Linked DNA regions of Homo sapiens. The protein of the gene in region 1 purifies or fractionates together with the protein of each later gene. This does not show direct contact. Each region holds a gene or a part of one and is shown on either strand. Other genes may lie near its edges.

Region 1 (7,546 bases):
TAAATCCAAAGCTGACCCTGAGACTGGAAGAAGAACCCCTCCCAACGGAGGCCTTAAAGGAAGGAGGGGAGGGGACCAGGGTTCCGGGGGTCATGGTGGAACAAGAACAAGCTCGCTGACTGACAGCCTGGGGGAACTCAGGACACCAGCACCAGCCACTTGGGAGATTGTGCGGGGGGAGCCACTTCTGAGCCAGTGAGGACCCCAGGACCAGCCTGGGCCCTCCCGCTCAGGTTTTTGGAGTACTGGAAGATCAACTGAGATTTCACCCAAGTTTCTTGCCACTGACAAAATGACCACTACTTGGGTACGAGGCAGATTAGGTAGGCCTCTCAGCTGCAATTCAAGCTAGTGTAAGCAAAAACGGGGATAATTGAACTGAAAAAGTGAATGGCTTCAGACCTGGCTGGATCCAGGTACCCATGGCGGCTACCGGGACCCTCTCTCATGCTCTCCACCTCTCGGCTCTGCTGTCCTCAATGCTGGCTTCATTCTCAGAAGGCTCTCCCCACTGTTGGCAAGGATGGCCCCCAGCAGCTCCAGGCCCATACCTGGCCAGCTCAGCAGCCCCAGCGGACAGAGGGAGCCTTTCTTTTCTTTTTTCTTTTATTTTTTATTTATTTATTTATTTTGAGATGGCGTCTCGCCCTGTGGCCCAGGCTGGAGTGCAGTGGTGTGATCTCAGCCCACTGCAACCTCCGCCTCCCGGATTCAAGCGTTTCTCCTGCCTCAGCCTCCTGAGTAGCTGGGACTACAAGCATGCAACACCAGGCCCAGCTAATTTTTGTATTTTTAGTAGAGACAGGGTTTCACCATGTTGGCCAGGATGATCTTGAGCTCTTGACCTCGTGATCTGCTCGCCTCGGCCTCCCAAAGTGCTGGGATTGCAGGCGTGAGCCACCGCTCCCGGCAAGGGAGGCTTTCTTAATGGCGCCAGCGAAAGTCCGAGGGCCAACGCCCATTGGACTAACTTGGGTCATGTGTCTGTCTCTGAAGTAGTCACTGGGTCTGACCCTTCCTGGCTTGGACGACATACTCCTGTTTAGAGCTGAAAGTGGAAAGTCTGCCAGAAAACGGGAGGCGGAGCAGGCCTGGCAGGGAGGTCCATGGCACTTCCTCCCCTCATGCCCAGGGCCCCGCCCCCGACTCCACTCCCAGACCTCAGAGCTGGAGCATCTGCAACTTCTGATCAGACTCCAGCCCACCTCACCCCTGCATGCAGAAATAGGGGTGCTACAAGGGGAAGCGGGGAGGGTGTGTGGGGTACCGAAATGACCTGGGACAGACCTGGGTTCCCATTCAGACTTTGTGTCTGAATGGGACACAAAGCTGTGTGTCTCCGGGCAAGTCACTGACTCTCTCTGGGCCTCAGTATTCCCATCTGTAAACTAATAATAACAATCAACACATTGACAGCACCTACTATGTCCTGGTCTCATTTTAAGCACTTCCTAGATACTTTTTGAAAATCCTCAAACTGACCCTAGGAGGTAGGTACCATCACTATCACCCCCATATTACAGTTGAAGATGAGTGATTCAAGATAGGTCAGGCACCAAGCTCAAGGTCACACCATTAGCAATAGACTCCTCAGGAGCAGAGCTAATGTGAATGAACGTGGCTGGCCCGGCGCCGGGGGCAGATACCTGGGAACAGCCATGAGCTTTGTGATGATCAAGGGGCAATCTGTGTGTGTGCTTGGTGGGATCTTGCAGAGGTTGGAAGAGGCCAGAGAAGACTCCACCAGCTCTTGCTGAAAAAGTCTTGCAGCCTCCCCTCAGCCCTAAAACCTTCCCGGAGAGGTGTGGGGGAGCACAGAACAGGAAGGTGGGGGTGGAGGGAGGAGGGTGGGGCTGTGAGGAGGGAGGGAGGGAGGGGGTTCTCCTTCTAAGCCTCCATCCAGTCCCATTTTATTCTCACAACAGGTTATCAAAAGGAAACTCAGAGAGGGGAAGTGTTTCAGCCAAGGTCACACAGCAAAGGCCCAGTTTCTGGATCTCAGTCCTCCCTTGTCTCATCTTTTCCACTCTGGGGATCCAGAAGTCATTGGCCCAGCCTCCCGCTGTGTGTAGGGGGAGCTCATGCTCTGGGGGTGGGAGAGACCGACCTGTCAGTGACTTGAAGGGTGATCGGTTTGGGGGTGGCAGACACGAAGTCCTGGTAGGAGGAACCCACCAGCCTCCCACCCACCAAGGCTGAGTGTGTGGGCTTCAGGGGCAACAGCAGCTGAAAGGAGGCAGGTTCTCAGAGGACAGTGACCAGTGGCCACCCACTCCCACCAGTCAGGGCAACTGAGAACTATGGGTCCACTGAGTTTGGCAAGTTAGGGGTTACTGGTGACCTTGGCCAGAGCAGTGCCAGAGAAAATGCGGGGAGGAGGAGACAGAGGACAGATGTCTGTCTGCATCCTATAGAAATGAGGGGATGAAGATAACCTGGAAGGGTGACGGGTGCGGAGACCAGGGGAGTGGGCTCTAGGGCATGCCAGCAGGGAACACCCTTGCTTCCCTGAAAATAGGGAAAACTGAGTGCAGGGTGTATGGGAACTCTCTATACTATCTTTGTAACTTTTCTGTAAATCTAACACTGTTCTAAAATAGAAAGTTTATTTAAAAATGTTGATGGCAAGAGGTGAGAGTGGGCGTGGCTGGAGAGTTTGTAGGTGGCTGGTGGGGAGGCAGGAATTTGAGGAAGGAAGAGCTTAGATGCATTTAGGGCTTCTGTTTTTTGGATGCAAAATTGAGTGTGCAGGAGGCTGGGGGGTGAGGGGAGCGGGGGGGGCGAGGAGCTGTGAGCTAGGACAAATCAAAGGAAGCTGGAAGAGGCTGAGGCCACAGATGCTCATGGCCAGCCATCTGCTGCCCCTCCCCGGCTGCAGGGTCTCCCTCCTCACCAGAATCAGGCTCTTCATGCCTAAGGGTGGGGGATGGCTGAAGCTCTGTCCCTCCATGGCTCTCCCCACTTCCCTTCCCCACCATGTGTCACCCACTCCCTTAGGGATCCCCATGGCAGGCCAACCACACCTACTGGCCAGTTGGTCTAGGGCACAGGGCCTGGCTGTGTCCCTGCCTGGGTGCCTCACTCTAGTGGTGGCCATGGAGAAATTGCCATGGCCTGTGGTCCCTAGACATAGTGGGCACTGACTTCCCAAGGCAGGGGCCTGTGAGTATTTTGAGTTTTAAGAGGGTTCTCCCAACTCCAAAGCGCCAGGAACACTGCCACATAGGCAGCCCTGCTCTCCTTCTCTTGGCATAGCCAATTACCCAACGCAGAACTCGGAGGCCTGGCTAGAACCACCTCCTCCTCCGCGGTGCGGTTGGGACCAGGTGAAGTTTGCTCAGGGAGGTCGAGGTTGGAGGCTTTGTAGTGGTGGAAAAGGCTTCTAAGCGCTGTGGACGGTTTCAGGGTCCCAACCTAGCAAGGAACGGAGTTCTGGAAGGCCCTGGCATGGTGTCCACTCCCTTGCAGGGGGTACTTTTCTGAGGCCCCCTCCCGTTCTGTGCTTAGAGCTTTAGGAGATAAAGGTGCCAAGAGGCTGGCCCTGAGCGTCCTTGGAGGAGCCCTGCCGTGGGAGTCTGGGGTTAGATGCTGCTTCCGGAACTCTACTTGGGACTCCTCTGGGAGGCGTGAGGCTTGAGAGAGAATGCAAAGGATCTCCTAGCTGGCCCCATCTGAGAGGGCACAGGCGTGGAGGGGAGGAGAGGCCTGGAATGGAGGGATAATGAGCTGGGTAGGGGCTGAGAATGGCCTGGAATAAGTGGTCATGGAGCCGAGATGGGGGGCTGTGGTTGGGAATTGGGAACTGGGATCAGGATGAGACTGGGATGGGTTGGACTGAAGATGTGCCGTGACACATGTTGGGGGGGACACGTGCTAAGCATGGGGCTGAAGCTGGGATGGGAAAGCAACTGGGGTGGATTTGAGGGTGGGATGCAGATGACAGTGGATATGATGGGATAGACTAGGCAAGGACCTCTCAGGGAAAGGAGACGGGCCAGGGGTGGGGTGTTGTGTGAGCTGGGTTGGGATGAAAATGGGTTTAACATGAGGTGGGACGCACCAGGAATGGAGATCAATGAAGCAATGGGTGGGGCGGAACCGGATTGGGACGGGGGGTGGGCGGGGGGAGGTGGGGACGGGACTGGGTTCGGGGCTGGAAGGAGGGCTAGCGCCGAGGTTACGGACGGGGCAGGTGAGGGTTCGGGACGTGGGTGGGGCTGGCCCTGGAGCGGCGCGCAGGGGCGGTGGGTGAGGGGCGCCCGGGGCAGGCCGGGAAGGGGGGGCGGGCCTCCCCCTGGGCCGGGCCGGGGCGGCGCTAGGACCGAGCGAGCGGAGGGAGCGAGCCGGGCGGAGCCAGCGCCCCCCGCCCCCCGCCGGCCGGCTCCCCTCCCCCGGCCGCTGGCTCGCTCGGCTCGCGACGCTGCAGAGGCTCCGAGGCGGCGGCGGCGACTCCCTCTTTCCCTCCCTCCTCCTCCGTCCGCCCGTCCGTCCGCGCGTCTGTCCGTTCGGCCCGGTCCGGCCCGAAGCATGGCCGGCGTCAGCTTCAGCGGCCACCGCCTGGAGCTGCTGGCGGCTTACGAGGAGGTGATCCGAGAGGAGAGCGCGGCCGACTGGTGAGCCCCCCGCCCCCGCCCCCGGCCCCTTTGTCCCCGCGCCGCCGCCGCGCCTTTGTTTCTCTCCCGCCCCGCCGCCCCGCCGCCGGGAAGGGAGGGGGACCCCGAAATGGTGCAGCGGGCCGGGAGGGCCGGGAGGGGCTGCCTTTGTGCGCGCCGGGGGAGGGGCCGGCGGGCCAGGCGGGGCACTGCCGGGCCCCGAGCGCCCGGAGGCGGCCCAAGGCGCGCGGTGGGAGCGGCGGCCGGACGCGGCCCGGAGGCGCGGGGTCCCGATGTGGGGCCCGGGGCCGCGTGGCCCTGCGGGAGCCCATCCCCCACCCTACCCCCCGGGCCCGGGGGACAGGTGTGCACGGGGCGGCCAAGGGCACCTTCGCCACCTTCGAGCGGGCGAGGTCCGGGCGGGGACGGGGCGGGGACCGAGCTAGCGGAGCCAGCGCAGCCTGCCCGGCTCAGCCCGGCCCGGCCACAGCACAAAGGAAAGCGAGGGCGGGGGAGGAGCGGAGCGGGCTGGGGGCCGGGCGCCCCGCCCACCGGGGGGCCTCTCGGAGTGGGCCGCCCTCCCCCCGAAACCTGGGCTGGAGTGAGGTGGAAGGATGTTTGCTGCCACATGGCGACCGCGAAGTGACTCCCTTACCGCCGCGGGTCGCGGAGGAGGCAGGGGTGAGCTCTCCTCCCCTACCTGAAGGGGACTGCGGGGACTAGGCAGCTGGGCTGGGGGGCACCGAGCTGCCTAAGGGGCCAGCTGAGATCCCTGGGAGGAAGCCCTCTGGAGAACAAGTGTGGAGGGAGCCCCCAAAGACGGCTGAAGGGGTGAACAGATCCACCGGCCCCCAGCAAGGGGCACTCGGTCCCTGATGGGGGAGGAGCTGGGCCGCCCCTCACCCCGCCCCCCAGCTGTTGTCTCCCGCTGAGCTGGGGGAGGGGATGGACCACCTGCTCTGGGGCTGGCGGCCCAGGGTGGTGGAAAAAGGAAACCGAGGGGTTCCTCACAGCCCCATCCTGGAATCCTTTAACCCCCCCGTAATACTCTTCTTCTAGGGAAGGTGCCCATCTGGTTCCTAGGCCTCCTCTCCCTGCTGGCAGATGGGAACAGGTTCTTCTTGAGGAAACTGAGGCAAAGAGGAGGGCAGGTCTGAGGGACCCCGCTTGGGCTGGCCTCACCCGCACACTGGGAGGGCAGCCAGGTGGGGACTCTGACCTGGGGGCTTCTGGAGGAGAGGATGAGATGGCTGGGCATCCATGGCATGGTACTGCAGCACTGGCCAGCAGCCAGGCCTGGAGGGATGGACGCGAGAGACAAGCTCTCGTGTCCTGCAGGTCAGTCACAGGAGAGGCCGGCACAGGCTCAGCAGGCAGGCGGCCCACCCATTGTCCCAGCCCTGCCCCAGGGGGGCTGAGATCATGGGAGGAGCTCTGGGCAAGTGGCCGGCTTGGCCTGGTGAAGGAGCTGGCTTTGGGATAAGGCCCCGCCTGGGGAGAAGCACAGCTCACCCCAGAACACCTCCTTTGCCCTCCAGCCTGGAGGGGTGTTGTCTACCAACACCCCATTTTCTCCTAAAAGCAGAGCTCTGGTGGCCTATTGCCAAGGCCACACAACCCCTGTTGCCCCACATCCTGCTCAACACAGGCCTGCCCCCACCCACCCCAGCAGCATCCGTGTGGCCAAAGCGAGTTATTCATCACTGGTGTGCGTCAGCCCCCATCTGGGTTGTGTGTGGGACACACACAGATGCACACATGTACCCTCGCACATGCACACATTCGTTCACTAAGGGCCCAGATAACATTTTGAAAAAGGGGTGTGAGGATCACTTTCTACACAAGAGAATATGAATACCCCAGGGCCCAGCATGGAACCAGGGGTGCAGTGAGGTCTGAAGACTCAGAGGCAGACCCTGCACATAGGTCCAGAGGGAGGGGTGTCTTGGGTAAATTGCTGTCTGCCCCCCGACCCTTACCTTGCCTCCAATGGGGAGGGGTGGTTGGGGGAGTTCACTCCTAGGTGGCAGGGCCTCTGAAGTGCACCACTACTCTGGCACAGGGAGCAGGGGACCCAGGAAATGAGGTTGTGTGGTGGGAAGGGCCACTGTTGTCCTGGTTGTGATATGACTCACTGTGATCATACACAAGTTCCTGGTCCTCTTGGAAAGAAAAGGGATTGGGCCCAGCACTACCTCGGATACTGAAGGCCTTTCTAGCACCACCATCCTGAGAGTGATGGTCCTGCGGGGTCCACCTGCCCTCAGCCCCCGACTCCAGCTCACCCTCCACCCCAGCTCACCCCCCATCCCAGCTCACCCCAGGGTCTCTGGAACTGCCACATTCCAGCTCCCACCTCACGCTAGTTCAGTTTATCTGGCTAGATGGCTTTTGAGTTGGTGTCAATATCACACATACTTCTGGTATGCGGTGTGCTGGACCCCAGGACCCAGAGAGCAGGATGTGCTGATTGACTGAGTCAGCGTTCCTGCCTTCACCAGGCTTACAGCTGGGGGCAGTGTCTGTCTCCAGGAGTTGGAGCTGGTGAGATGTGTAGATGCCTGGTCGCCTACCCCATCCTGATTCCCTGTGGTTTCGCCAGCTTCCACCTGGTGCACCACCAGGCTCGGGGTGCCTCTGATGTGGTTGAGAAGCACTGGTCTTTGTATTCCTGCTGGGATATGGTGGGTGCTCTGGGAGGGGCAGCTCAGGAGAGGCTGCTGGGGGCCAGCACTGGGCTCTGAAGAACGGAAGCATTCCACTGGGAATAGGCGTGGGGTAGAGGAGCAGGTCTTGCCTTCCACGTGAAGAGAACTACATAGGCAGAGGCTTCAGGGTGAGCCCTGTCCAGAACCCTGCTTGGGTCAGGGAGCCGTCCAGTGTGTCCCAAGTGTGTGGTGTGGACAGGGTGGTCCAATGGAAAGGCAGGCTGGAGGGTTTGAACTGGGGTATGG
Region 2 (7,463 bases), on another chromosome or scaffold:
CCTGGGTGACAGAGCAAGATTCTGTCTCAAAAGAAAAAAAGAAAAGAAAAAGAAAGAACTCATTGGATCCCTACAGTAAACCTCAGAAGTGAACACCATTCGTATGCCCATTTTATGGATGGGGAACCTGAGGCACAAAGAAGGGAAAGTGACTTCTTCAGGGTGGCACTGCTGGTAAGCAGCAGGGCTGGGATTCACTCCCTGGCTCACGTGATTCCGAAAGCCAAGTCGAAAGCTGGAACCTGGGGATCTCCTACTCCTGAAAGTGCTCATAGAAAGCTGTCACAGGGGCCAAGGGCGGTGGCTCACGTCTGTAATCCCAGCACTTTGGGAGGCCAAGGCGGGCGGATCACGAAGTCAGGAGATTGAGACCATCCTGGCCAACATGGTGAAATCCTGTCTCTACTAAAAAAAAAAATACAAAAATTAGCTGGGTGTGGTGGCGAGTGCCTGTAATCCCAGCTACTCGGGAGGCTGAGGCAGAAGAATAGCTTGAACCCAGGAATTGAAGGTTGCAGTGAGCCGAGATTGTGCCACTGCACTCCAGCCTGGCGACAGAGTGAGACTCCATCTCCAAAAAAAAAGAAAGCTGTCACAGGTCAGGCTTGTTCTAGGTGCAGGGACAAATCCATGTAAGAGGTGAACAGTAACCAAATCATGCCATAAACAATAAACAGACCTGAAGTAGTCACCAAGACCTTCACTGGGAGGTGGGCACCCAGCTTTCGGGAAGAGCAGGTGGACTGTCCCTGCTCTGGTGGCACAGAAAGTCTCTGGAGAGGAGAGACTGTTTAGCCTCACTCCAAAGGCTAGGTCAGATCTAACTAGGCAGAGACCAGAGCCTGAGCCATAAAAGCCATTCTGCAAATGCAGTTTTCTTAGTGCTGAATGAGCTGTTCAGGCTCCCGCTTGGTTTCCCCTTTAAGGTGGGAAGCTCATTCTCCCACACCATTTTTCAGCCCCAAAGGAAAGTTGCTTTCCTAGTCAGACACCTTGGGGTGGCCTCTGCCTGCCCTGCAAGGACATCTCAAGTCTGTTCCTTCCTTCCTTCCTCCCTCCCCCCCACCCTTTTTTGTTTTTGTTTTTGAGACAGAGTCTCCTTCTGTCACCCAGGCTGGAGTACAGTCACCTGATCTCAGTTCACTGCAACCTCTGCCTCCTGAGTTCAAGCAATTCTCCTGCCTCAGCCTCCCGAGTAGCTGGGATTACAGGTGTGCACCATCACGTCCGGCTAATTTTTGTATTTTCAGTAGAGACGGGGTTTCACCATGTTTTGACCAGGCTGGTCCCAAACTCCTGACCTCAGGTGATCTGCCTGCCTCAGCCTCTCAAAGTGCTAGGATTACAGGCATGAGCCACTGCACCCAGCCCAGTTCTTTAGAAGAGAGGCCTCCAGACCTAGGAAGAAGAGGGCCCAGACTGGGGTGGGGGCAGCAGCTCAGGGCAGCCCTCGTTAGAGACGAGGTCTCACTATGTTGCCCAGGCTGGTCTCGAACTCCTGAGCTCAAGCGATCCTCCAGCCTCGGCCTCTCAAAGTGCTGGGATGACAGGCATGAGCCCAGCCCCTTTCTGTGACTCTTATGTTACCTGTTTATTATATGACCAGGTCTAGGTGCTCCTCTAGGGCTGGCCCATCCATCCTGAAGCCTCAGTCTGACCCAGCATAAGAGTGACTATTCATCCCAGCAGGGAAACTGAGACACAGACTCTGTTTTCCCAGCTGCAGCAAAGAGTGGCAGGGCCTTTGCCCACGAACCTAATGGCAGGCACCCCAGAGGACAGCTGCTGATATTGACTAAATCCTTCATGTTTCTCCCTCTACTAGAAGCCCTGCAAGCATCGGCCCATTTTCCAGGTGAGAAAACTGAGGCCCACACTGAGGAAGCCAGTGCCTCAGTGTAGACTTGGCTAGTCCAGCTTCAGGTTGGGGCTGCTCAAGGCCAGCCCTGTCCCAGCCCCTCCCAGAGACCGGAGAGGGTGTTCAGGAAAGCAACTCAACCCTTCACTGTCTCTTTCACTGTTGCTTTCTGCCCACACAAAGGGCAAAGTCTGCCTGGGCCCCTCGCCCAGCCGCCCCTGTAAAATAGCCACAGGGCCCCACTTGTGCACTTGGCAAACTCTAAGCAGCTTCCAGAAGCCTTGGCCATGCCAGCACCTTTCCCAGATACTTTTTTATTTTTTCCATTATTTTGTTGGTAATAAGGAAAAGTCATTTTTTGCACAGAACAGACGGTATTTTCTTTGCTCCCCACAATGTTCAAGCATTTCGTGGCTTCCGGCCTGAGAACAGAGCCAAATCCTTCCCTTGTGCAGATGCCTCGTGAAGTTAGAAGCAGCCAGGGAAACCGAGTCTGTGCCTCAGTTTCCCCTGTGGGATGAACAGTCGCTCTTGTGCTGGGTCAGACTGGGGCTTCAGGATGGATGGGCCAGCCCTAGAGGAGCACCCAGACCTGGTCATGTAATAAACAGGTAACATAAGAGTCACAGAAAGGGTCTGGGCTCACACCTGTCATCCCAGCACTTTGGGAGGCCGAGGTGGGAGGATCACTTGAGCTTAGGAGTTTGAGACCAGCCTGGGCAACATAGTGAGACCTCGTCTCTAAAAATAAACTTTAAAAAAGAAAAAAAAAAGAGTCACAGGGATTGGGACAGGGGAGGGCAAGATCCCTTCCAAGGCCAGGGTAGTCAGAGAGGCTTCCTGGAGGAGGAGACAGGGTGGTGGCGCTGAGCCTGGAAGGACAAGGCAGAAGAGATGCCTGCAGCGAGGGCATTCCAGGTGGAAGGAACAGTTTGGGCAAAGGCCTGGATGGGGGAAGACTCAGATCTTGGCGCAGGAGTCAATCTCCAAAAACAACCTGACCTGGAATTCACCTAAAGGTAATTTGAATGTAATGTAACCGCCAGCTCAGATATACTATTCTTCTTAGAAGGAAACAGAAATAAAGGAACAGGGAAAGGAGACAGGAGCAGAGGTCTTGGAGATGAAAAGCAAAAGCCTCTCTGAAGTTGTCAAAACACTCAAGTGTCGGCCAGGTGTGGTGGCTCACGTCTGTAATCCCAGGACTTTGGGAAGCCGAGGGGGGCAGATCACTTGAGGTCAGGAGTTCGAGACCAGACTGGCCAACATGGTGAAACCCCATCTCTACTAAAAATACAAAAATCAGCCAGGTGTGGTGGCATGCACCTGTAGTCCCAACTACTCGGGAGGCTGAGGCAGGAGAATTGCTTGAATCTGGGAGGCAGAGGCTGCAGTAAGCCGAGATTGTGCCACTGCACTCCAGCCTGGGCAACAGAGTGAGACTTTGTCTCAAAAAAAAGAAAAGAAAAGAAAAGAAAAACTCAAATGTAAGATCAGAGCTTTAGGGCGCCACAGGCCTTGGTTCCAGGGAGCTGCAGGACCTCTGTCCACAAACGAACCAACGGCGCCGCACCGTGTGATTTTGGAGACGGTGCCAGAGAGGGGGCGGCACCAGGATTGACAAGTGGGACACATGGGCTTGGGGCTGGGGAGGTGGATCCTAGTTCAACTCCGGAAGGATGCTCTCCTGGCAAGTGTGGGAAGGGGGTGCTCCCTGTGACCAGAGGTGACAAACGCAGGCCAGTGGAGGCTGAGGGGATGCAACCATGCGTTGGAGACATTTCCTCAGCCTTTGGATTTTGGAACCCTCAAACAACAGCAAAGATAACCTTAATCCAACCATTGTGGGCATTTTTACCATCGTCTTGGGAGGGACAGAGGTGGACAGACGTCCCTGCTTAGGGATGGGACGGGCAGGGGAACAGAGGCTTCTCTCTCTTTGTCTTGCTTCCCGTTCCCTCCCGAAGTTGATCTCTTCCGTTTCCTGGCAACACCCATTGAGCACTTACTGTATGCAGACCCTGAGACCCACTGCCCCCTCCCCAACCTCACTGGGCCACCCATGTCAGCCCGGGAGGGACCTGACCTCCCTCACAGGCCCAAAGTTATGACCTCAGGTAGTGGGGACAGAGGCAGCTGTCTCCTGAGAAGGTGACAGGAGGGTGAGGTCACATCGCTGTCCGTGCAACTCTCTCCATCTGCTTCCTATCTCTCCGCCTGTCTCCCCCGTGTCTCTGTTTCTGGGTCTCTTTCTCATCCCAGATGTCCCTCTCCGTCTGTCTCTCTGTCCCCACCCTCTGCTCCCAACCCGACCCCACGCAACCCCCCCCCCCACTCCCCCTCCACCGCCCCTAACCCCCTCCCTCAATCCTCCGTCCCTTCCCCAGTCCCGGCCCCCGCCCCTCCCCCTTATCCCCTCCCCCATACCCTCTCCCAGTGCAAAAAGCCGGCAGGGGGCGCAGCGGGGCGGCCTTGGCGGCCCGGGGAGGCGGGGCGGGCGGCGGCCGCGTCGGGACCGGCCGCGATGGGACCGGAGGCGGCGCGGGCGGCGGCGGCGCAGACAAAGGCACGGGCGGCGTGGAGGGCGGCGCGGAGGGCGCGGGCCCGGGAGCCAGGGAGCGAGCGGGGCGCCCGGCAGCGCGGAGTCAGCGCCGCGGGGGCCGCACCCGACTCGCGCCTGGACACTCGCGGGGCGCCGACCTGGCAGGGTGAGCCCGGCCTGCCGAGCCTGCGCTGGGAGCGCGGGGGCCTCGAAGTCCCAGGGCCAAGGGGAGGGCGTGGGGGTTCCCCAGAAGTTTCGGACCCGGGACTGGGAGCGGCGCGAGGGGTCCCCAAGTTCCAGGGCTGGAGGGAGCGCGGGGGTCCCGAAGTTCTGGATTCAGGGTCTGAGAGGGGACTGCGTGGGAGGTTCCCAAAGTTCTGGACCCGGCGTTGGAGGAGGCTGCGAAGAGGTCCCCAAAGCTGCGGACCTGGGGTGGGGTACTGGGGTGGGAGGGGTCCGGACGTCCCGGACCCAGGGACTGGAGGGGTGGCAGGGGGTCCTCGAAGTTTAGGAGTCTAGGACAACGCGGAGGACCGGGGTCCCGGACCCAGTTAGAGGAGGAGTCACGAAGGGAGTCCCCGGAGTTACCGACCTGGGGTTGGAGGAGGCAGAAGAGGTGTCCCCCGAAGTTCTGGACCCAGAGACAGGGGGCGTCGCGGGAATCTCGGAAGTTCCAGGGTCAGAGCCCGCGTCCCGGAGTTGGGGCGTGCACTGGGTGTCCTGCCTCGGGTGGGGATGGGATCCTGAATTAATATTAACCCCCCCGTCCCCCGCACTCGGGTGCATGGGATGGGGCCTCATCCACCGGCCAGATTGGGGATCCCGGGCACCGGGCGGTGTCGGACCCCCCTCCGGGAGCCCCGTGGCCGGCGGCATCCGAGGCGCATGACTAGTTGGTGAGTAACTTTCCCCAAACGCTGCAAGTCGCAGCAGGAGCTGCCGGACCGGAAGGGCCTGGGTTCCGGGGACCCCTGTGTTCCCCAACTCCCACCCGGCGCAGGACCCGCCCCCAGTCCAGGCCAGAGCTGCCGCCCCACCCCCACTCAGGGGCTCCGGTTTCAGACCCTGTGACCAGGACAGCAGCTGCCCAGGACAGGATAGGGGGGGCATCCCCCCTTTGACCACAGAGGCCGCTGGGCCAGGGCCTCCCCTCCCCCACCTGTCTTCCCCCTCCTCCAAACTCCTCCTTGGTCCCCTGCAGATTCGGGGTTGCTGAATGGCCCAATGGGGAGGTTGGGGAGCCCTGGTCTCCCAGTGTGGATTCTGCTCTGCCCTCATGGTGGGCATTGGGATTGGCTGTTTGTCTACATCTTGTCTTTTTAACTTGGCTGGGGGCTCCCTGGGGATTTGGACTCTGGACTTCAAGGTGTGCTTCTGCCCTAGGGTGGGAGCTGCTGGGGGTGGGGTCCCTCTGCAGGGTGTAGTGGGGAACTGGTCTCCTGGTACTACACACCTCTCAACGCCCCATTTTTTGGTGGAGAGCCCCGCTCTGGCCAGTCATGGGTGAATGTGGTGGAAAGAACTCAGCAGAGATTTGGCCTCCACAGCTCAGCCTGGGATGGAGGGGACTTCACGGGGGTGCAATAACCAGGACAATGAGAAATTTACATCTGGATGTCAGCGGCCACCAGGCTCCTCTCAGAGGGCCATCTCCTGTACAGGGTGTTGTGGGGGCTTCCCCTAGACAAAGAAAGATGGGGTCTGCTTGCTCTGAGTTATCTATAATAATTATCTTACCTTTTTGTTTCTTTTTATAATTTCTTTCTTTTTTGAGACAGGGTCTCACTCTCTTGTCCAGGCTGGAGTGCAGTGGCCTGACCATAGCTCACTGCACTGCAGCCTTGACCTCCTGGGCTCAAGTGATCCTCCCACCTCAGCCTCCCCAGTAGCTGGGACGGCAGGCACATGCCACCACACCCAGCTAATTGTTTAAATTTTTGGTAGAGATGGGGTCTCGCCATGTTGCTCAGGATGGTCTCGAACTCCTGGGCTCAAAGGATCCTCCTGACTCAGCCTCCCAAAGCACCAGGTGTACTTTGGGCCTCTCCTGCCTTTTTGATTGAAAGTTCCATGACGGGCACACCTGGTGATGGGTCCTGAGATGGAACCTGCTTGGCCTCCCTCAGCCTGGCCTGAGGGACACTCATAGTCCCTCCTCTCTCCCTAGGGGCCAAACCAGTGCTCCTGCCACCTCTCTGGCTGCCCCCTAGAGCCTGCCCATCCCAGCCTGACCAATGTCCACAGCCAGGTGAGCTCCCACCTCCCCCAGCCTGGCCCTGAGCTTTCTAAGTGGGGGTGCCTGGCCCCCACCAAACACCCTCTCCCCACGCAGGGAGCAGCCAATCTTCAGCACACGGGCGCACGTGTTCCAAATTGACCCAGCCACCAAGCGAAACTGGATCCCAGCGGGCAAGCACGCACTCACTGTCTCCTATTTCTACGATGCCACCCGCAATGTGTACCGCATCATCAGCATCGGAGGCGCCAAGGTCAGGGTGGGGTCTGGGTGGGGCAGAGGCACCAGGAGTCCTGGTGACAACCTTGGGTCTGGTGGCTGGCTTGCTGTGTGCCCAAGGGACAGGAAACCCTAAGCCTTCCCAGGCCCTAGTCTCTATCTCCTGAAAGGGTTCAGAGTAAAGACCTTCAAGACCCTAATACAAGGTAATACCTGGGGGGTTTCATGTTTGTTAGTATCTGTCCCATCTACCTTGAACTTTGTTCCCCGACCCTAGGCCATCATCAACAGCACTGTCACTCCCAACATGACCTTCACCAAAACTTCCCAGAAGTTCGGGCAGTGGGCCGACAGTCGCGCCAACACAGTCTACGGCCTGGGCTTTGCCTCTGAACAGCATCTGACACAGGTGGGCCGGGTGAGGGGGAGAGTGGAGGGAACCGATGAGACTGGGCCCAAGTCTTCTCCTGGGCTCACTCTGGGATCTTGGGCAGGTCCCCTATCTTCCCATCTGCAGGATGGGATTGTAGGATGAGTTGAGACTGAAGCCCCTTTAAGCTTCCCCGGTTTGATTCCTAGTTCATTTTTCTGTTTTTTTTTTGAGATAG

The links. The genes of interacting proteins can lie anywhere in the genome.
Region 2: the proteins of DBN1 (region 1) and HOMER3 purify together in Homo sapiens (co-immunoprecipitation; 4 studies listed by BioGRID and IntAct, with this or other methods). This does not show direct contact.

The regions. Positions count from the first base shown.
Region 1 is NC_000005.10:177,470,503-177,478,048, reverse strand, and holds the start of DBN1 (drebrin), read left to right. Parts: upstream 1-4,414; 5' UTR 4,415-4,527; coding exon 4,528-4,613; intron 4,614-5,208; exon of another isoform or gene 5,209-5,273; intron 5,274-5,551; exon of another isoform or gene 5,552-5,838; coding exon of another isoform or gene 5,839-5,930; intron 5,931-7,546. UniProt on the Homo sapiens protein: Actin cytoskeleton-organizing protein that plays a role in the formation of cell projections. Required for actin polymerization at immunological synapses (IS) and for the recruitment of the chemokine receptor CXCR4 to IS.
Region 2 is NC_000019.10:18,938,154-18,945,616, reverse strand, and holds the start of HOMER3 (homer protein homolog 3), read left to right. Parts: upstream 1-4,399; 5' UTR 4,400-4,566; intron 4,567-4,992; exon of another isoform or gene 4,993-5,766; intron 5,767-5,981; exon of another isoform or gene 5,982-6,567; 5' UTR 6,568-6,634; coding exon 6,635-6,648; intron 6,649-6,732; coding exon 6,733-6,889; intron 6,890-7,132; coding exon 7,133-7,264; intron 7,265-7,463. UniProt on the Homo sapiens protein: Postsynaptic density scaffolding protein. Binds and cross-links cytoplasmic regions of GRM1, GRM5, ITPR1, DNM3, RYR1, RYR2, SHANK1 and SHANK3.